Linked DNA regions of Homo sapiens. The protein of the gene in region 2 interacts with the protein of the main gene of each other region in a biochemical or structural test. Each region holds a gene or a part of one and is shown on either strand. Other genes may lie near its edges.

Region 1 (3,500 bases), on a different chromosome or scaffold from region 2:
CATTTACTCTCACTTCCATATACTCAGTATTACACTGCCATTAACTTCTAATGCTGTCCAATCAATATAACAATGTTGAATTCAGAATGATCAAACTTGAGTTTGATATTTGACAGGTGCAAATGACCTAAGTTAACACTTGGGTAAGGTACATTAAATCTGTACAGGCACTGCTGTATAGAGTGCCTGTAAAATACCTTATTCCTGCTCTCAAGCTAATACCTTTCTCTCAGAAAAGTATTCCATATGAACTACTTACCTAGCCTAGTTTTGCAAAATGATAGCATTTTAAAGGAAAATAATTAAGAGCTAACATTTATTATTAGCCCCATTTTCTAGGTGGGAAAACTGAGGGTGTAAGTAAGTTGGCCATTGTCACATAGCAAGTGGTGAAGCTAAGATTTAAATCCAGGTTGATTTCCAGGGTCTAATCTCCTAACTCATACTGTCCTACCCTCAAAGGGTAGGTTGTATTCCTTAGAATATTAAGCAGGAGGATTGCTTGAACCTGGGAGGCAGAGGTTGCAGTGAACTGAGATCGTGCCACTGCATTCCAGCCTGGGCAACAGAGCAAGACTCCATCTCAAAAAAAAAAAAAAAGAATATTAAGTCACAAAAATCTATTTCATGACTAAAATTTTTCCTTTGGGAAAATATTAATGTTATTTATAGGTAAGAAGTATTTACTGTAAAGAGAGAAGAAATAAACATGTCAGGGAACTATGTAAAAAGTGAGATTAGTAAATTCCTGATAATATTCTATAGAAGCAGTATCTTTTGATATATACTTCCTATTAAAATTGTAGAACTTTAGAGATTAAAAGAGTCCACTTTGGGAGGCCGAGGTGGGCGGATCACGAGGTCAGGAGTTTGAGACCAGCTTGACTAACATGGTGAAACCCCGTCTCTACTAAAAATGCAAAACTTAGCCAGTCATGGTGGCATACGCCTGTAGTGCCAGCTACTCAGGAGGCTGAGGCAGGAGAATTGCTTGAACCTAGGAGGCAGAGGTTTCAGTGAGCTGAGATTGTGCCACTGCACTCCAGCTCCGGGTGACAGAGCAAGACTCTGTCTCAGGGGAAAAAAAAAAAAAGAGTCATCAGTTCAACTCACTTATTTTATGGGTGAAGCCTGATGGGACTGCAGAGTTTATACCAGTATTAATAATGTATCAGGCTATGAATGGAAAGTATGAAGAAAGGGATTCTACATTGTTATGCTAATTTAAATTATTGCTTTGCTGGGCGTACAACTGGTTTTCATCTTTCTGAATATGGCTTGGGATTATCAAGATGTACTTCTGCAACTAGTTAAATAAGCATTAAGTCAACTATACATATATTCCACTTGTACATATCTTTTCCAAGGTAGATTTACATCTCTTTCTAAGAACAAATAAATTTTAAAAAATTATACCTACTCAAATCTGCAATTTTACTTTGGAAAAGATTTATCATTAGTAAGTGAATTAGTAGGAACATGCATGAATTTCTGCCTTATGCAGTCTCTCTTTTTATCTCTCAGCTGGACTCCTGTAAGGAGTCAACTCTTTAGTTTCTTCTTCAAATTGCACACCCTCCCTCAAATTGCATACACCTCTGATTCATCCTTCATACTCCTGCCAGAAAAACCTTTCTAAAACACAAAACTATGCCTTCCTTATAGTTAAAGGCATTCTGTGGTTCTCTGTTATTTATATGACCAACTCCAGCTCCCTTGGAAGGGCATCATTGGCCTTCCTCAATCTGTTCCTGCTCTCCTCTGTGACTTTCCTTGCCAATTGCACCCAGCGAAAGTGAACTACTTGCAGAGCCCAAGTCATGCAAGGCCAGTGTGCATGTGCTATTCCTTCTATCTTTCCCTTTTATCTTCCTCAAAGACACTTTTTCATCCCTGATGACTTAGTTAAAGCTTTGCTTCCAGTATGAAGCTTTTCCTGACACTTCCTACTGCCCACACTGATAAAACTGAATATTCCTTCTTTGGATCCCAATTTATCCATTTCATCTTTCTATCACTGTACCTGTTAGGCTTATTATGTGTACTTATTTGTATACTATTTGATTACATATTTGTCTTTTTCCATTTAGTTCTAATAATATTTTTGGGTGCAGGTCCTATGTAACCTATTTATCTCTGTATTCTGGTTACCTAGTATGGCATCTGGTAGATAACTAGCACTTAAAGCATGATTTTGAAAAAAATGAATGTGTGAATGTCGAATATACATGGAAGAAGTCCAGAGTTCTATTAAAATGGTAATGAAGGAATAACTTTTCAATATGCTTCTGAAAGATGGGAAGGTCCTAGTCTAAAATAAATCCAAATTTATCTTGTTATATGCTCTCCTGAAATATTCCACAACTACTTACGTTTATCTTCATATAAAGTCTTAGATTTCAGGTAGACCTCAGAAGGATCCAATTTTGGGGATCCTGACCTGATAATGCTCGGTGGAAAAGGCATAGGCTGAGGAATAGGCTCATTTATGGCCTCCAAACTTCCTGCATTTTCCTTTTTATCTGTTTTCTGAAATGGAAAAGAGCCTTACTTAGTATTTTTTAAAAAGCAGATGGTTGATTAATTCATAAAACTGATATCTGAAATGGATATGTCAACTGATTATAGTTGTATAGGTGGCAGGATCAAAGACACAGCAGATTTACAGTTACAGGAATTCATTTTCATAGCAATGTGTATTTGGTTGAAACATATTTAACTTAAATTAGAAAAAAGTTTATAGTAATATCAACTGAAGAGCCTTAGTTAGTCCTATGTTTAAACAATTTTGCCCTTTTCTCCACCACCAAGACACAAATTGACTTTGAGATGAAGATAAATAGAAATACAATACAAGGCAGCACTTCTAAGTAAAGTAAGAGGGAGATTCAGAGAATATCTTCATAAAATTCTTAGCACGGCCCACCTCCCATTCACTGAGTTTAATTTCTAAGGAAGATGTTTAAGATAATACTCTTTCTAAGAAAACAGGAGAGGTTAACTCTAATTTAGGTTATAAAGATGGCACTGTGAAAACCCTGTCTGGCCAATTCACATATATTAAGAGAAAATGTACCATGCAAGACAATTAGATAAGGGAAAGCATAGTAGCATATTTTGATATTTTTCCTATTCAGCTAGAACTTTCCCAAGATAACAGCCAAGCAAAATGACTTATTTAATAAAATGTTAACAATGAAATCCAATAAATGGCCTAAGAAATATGGTTTTGAGACCAGCTCGTTTTCCTGGATTATTGTTAGGAGAGGGAGATTATGGATGTTTGTGATCATTAACAATGACTAGAATGCAGGGGCACCAGTCTGTCAGGGAGTAATCAGGGGTCAGCCACTACAAAGTGTCGTGCTAGAGGGGACCCTTCAATCACCCAGACCCAATGAGAAGGCAGAGAAGCTAACAGTAGTCTCCTACCCTTCCCCATACATCTTAGCATTCTGTCAGAGGCGGTTAAAGTTCATCAGACCCTTCCATCAATTATA
Region 2 (3,500 bases):
AAGTGGAAGATTTTATGTAAAGCAAAAACCGCAGTGCCCCGTATATAGACAGCATTCAATAATTAGCAGTTATAATGTGTTGTTATCATTACTAAAAGTAATGGCAAAAACCACAATTACTTTTTCACCAACCTAATATTATTATCATGTTTCACATGAATTAATAGTGTCAGACTCAGAACAGAAGCACAGGTGTCCTGTTCCCAGCTCTTTCTGCCATAAACCACCTGAACAGCTGGGAGACCTGGAAGCATAAGCAGAACTGTCTCTCACTTGATTCATCCTAGATCCATCTCTTTCCTCTCACCTCTCCCCTCCAATCCAACAGCAAGTCCTCATTTTTACTCTGAAATATAACTTAAATCTGGCCACATCTCACTATCCCCTTTGTTCTCCTGGTGTACAACACCATCATCTCCAGCCCCAATTCGACCAGAGCCTCTGAACTTTTCTCCCTGCTTCCTCTCCTGCCCCATGAGTCCATTCTCTTCAAAACAGTTGTGGTGTTCTTCTCAAAACATAAGTTCTATCATTCCCCTGATTGAAATTCCACAGTAGAGTTTTAGAGATAAATTATTCACAATGGTGAATAATGTTCCACATGATTTGGTCTCCACGTGTTGTTCCACCTACATTTGGTTACAATCTGCCCCTTGACCACATCCCCAGAAATGTGTGTGTTTCTAAGATGCTAGATTTCTGTCTACCCCAAGTCCTTTGTACTTGCTTTATCCTTTATTCAGAATTCCCTTTCCTCTGTTTTCAAATGACTGGCTTCTCATTATTGAGCTTTCTCAAAGGTCTTCTCTTTGGAGGGGCTTCCTTGAGCATTCCATCACTTTCCACTTAATTACCCTGGTTTTTTAAATAGCACTTGTCAGAATCTGAAATTACTTTATTTATATTTGTATTGCCTGCCTCTCACTGTAAGAATATACATTCCTGACATCAAGGTATGTTTCTCCTTTCCGAAAAGTACATATACAAAATAGGTGATCAATAAATACATTTTGATTGAAGAAACAAATGAATGAAGTCTACGGCTATTTCTATATGGTACAATAAAAATGTATTATTCAAACTTTTGACAGTGTCCTACATTGATGGCATTGAGCAAGGAAACACAGTGAATCACTCCATAAATGACAGTAGACATAGCCTACCCTACTAAGACATGTTATACATTGGAGATGAGCTAGAAAAAAAAAAGCAGTAGGAAACTTTTCAAATTATGTTTTAATTGTAGCAGCGTACACCTCAGCTGTCTCATACCCTATGTTTGTTTATTCAAAAAATACTGTGTGGGTGTCTACAGTGTGCCTAATACTGCTCTCGAAGTTTTAGACACATCAGTTAAAAAAAATAAGACAAAAATTTCTGCCATTATAGCTTATAGCATCTCTGTGGTTGAGTAGTGGAGAGTAAGTTGGGAAGATAGAAGGCTCTAATCAGAGAAGGGTGCACAAAATTGTGATTATGGAGTGGGTACAGTTATTGATCCAACACATGGTTTTGCAGGCCAGTCTCTGTTACAATTACTCAACTATGTCATTGTGGTATGAATGCAGCCATAGACAACATATAATAAATGAGCGTGGCTGTGTTCCAATAAAACTTTATTAAAATAGGTGGCAAACTGAATATTACCTGACCATAGCTGGCCAACCACTGGTCTGAGGTACAAGGCATAGGCCATGACCTTGGGTGTGAGTGGAGTGGAAGCTGAGGTAGATTGGAGATCAGACATTGGAGGTCAAGGAACTGGACAACCAAGATTGAAAGGATGGAAGGTGGGAAGGATGATCTACATGTATAGTAAAATTGCCAAGTATTAAGGCAGAAGTAGTACCAGAGAGTGTGACAATGAGAGAGGAACTGACAACTCTGAGAAAAAGAGGAAAATGTCCTATAGATTGGCAGATGACAGCATGAAAGGGAAGTAGATGATATAGTCTGATAACATGAGCTTCAAAGCTGAAGCTTTTTTAGGGTTAAGGGAGATATAATGGTCTAAAAATGGCAACAGGATAAAGTTCCATTTTCTGGGACTGTGGTACTTCTTCTCCACATGTTCAAAATAACTTTTCACCAAACACAATACACACATTTTAACTGTTTAAGAACAACGAGAGTAAAAAATATTTCCAGCAATAAGTCCCCAGTACCAGGTGCCTTAGGAAGGTGGTTATGGCCCTATATTTTGAAGATTCCTCATATGCTGTGATGTGGCATCTTTACAAGCACTAACCAGCTACTACCTGGAGGCACATTTTTAGCGCTCATTGGCAAGAAGACCAGCTTTCACGTACACACTGAATATTTTTTATTGTGTCTTCATAGAAAAACGGGAACTTTACAATAGTGACAGACTTATTGATATTATCTACATTGTAATGGGCTAAAAGAAATATCTCGGAGCCTAAAAAAAATCAAATTGATGATCACTAAAGTTTCAAAAGATCAGAACATGCAAGTAGATGCCTAAAAATGAAGATTCGAGGACTTGAAAAGCTAAGTCCTATAAAAGGGAACTGGAGGTTTTCAAAAACGACTAAAATGACACCAAAGAGAGATTAACCAGCAGGCAGAGAGCTGGCAAAGTGTGTTCATGAATTATATACCGTACCAGAAGTTCTAGCAGGAGAAAAGCATAGGATTAATAATTAACTAGCAGAGTAATAATGGGCTTGTATGTTCTGCTTTTTCTTAGTGAAAGAAATAGGCCTACTTACTCTTTCTGCTCATTGCTTGTCTCCTTGTACTTATGGAAAGGAAAGTTTATAAGCCAAATCCTTTTTATAACTGTGAATCATTTATTCCCAAAGCCTATTCAGGCTTCCTCTCATATTCCCATTTGGACCTTTCTGAAAATACTCCAAGGTTCCTGCTGGTGATTGGTACTACACAAAGAGCTGTGCTACCGTGCCACCAATATTTGAAGCCCTTCTCCACAGTATTTTACCTATCACCATTATTATCTTCATCTCCAATCAGCGTTTGTGGGAAAAGTGCACATTTAGCACTGCCCTTTGTACTAAATAATGTGCTGTTTCTGCTCCAGAGTTTAAAGTCCAGGAAAGATAAACTGATGCCTTTTCCCACCTCTCAGTTCCAGCACTGAGCACTTTCCTGAAGTGCAAAATGGGATTCCTTTAAATCTTTATGGGATAAATAAATCAAGACATGTGCAGGACACACCGAAAGTAAAACAGAAATTTTAAATTAAGGAAGGAGCATTAATACATTTACATCATGTGTTAGTAAGATCATGGAAAAGTTCTGGTAAATGCAGAGTTTTGCTGCAGCAAAGTATTAAAAACAAACAAACAAGCAAACAAAAAACCAGGGGTAAATATTCCCGAGAGGAGCAGGAAGAGATAATAAGATCTCTTACTTCTCATAGAGAAGGAAACTAAATGTTTAGTGTTTACAGTACAGTCATGCAACACGTAACAACATTTTGATCAATGATGGATCACGTATATGACGGCAGTTTCATA

What was found.
Region 1: the proteins of SLC15A5 (region 2) and MAGI3 interact in a test that uses a peptide from one of them, tested with the Homo sapiens proteins (one large-scale study listed by IntAct).

Annotation. Positions count from the first base shown.
Region 1 is NC_000001.11:113,645,515-113,649,014, reverse strand, and holds part of MAGI3 (membrane-associated guanylate kinase, WW and PDZ domain-containing protein 3), read right to left. Parts: intron 2,530-3,500; coding exon 2,373-2,529; intron 1-2,372.
Region 2 is NC_000012.12:16,218,686-16,222,185, reverse strand, and holds part of SLC15A5 (solute carrier family 15 member 5), read left to right. Parts: intron 1-3,500. UniProt on the Homo sapiens protein: Proton oligopeptide cotransporter.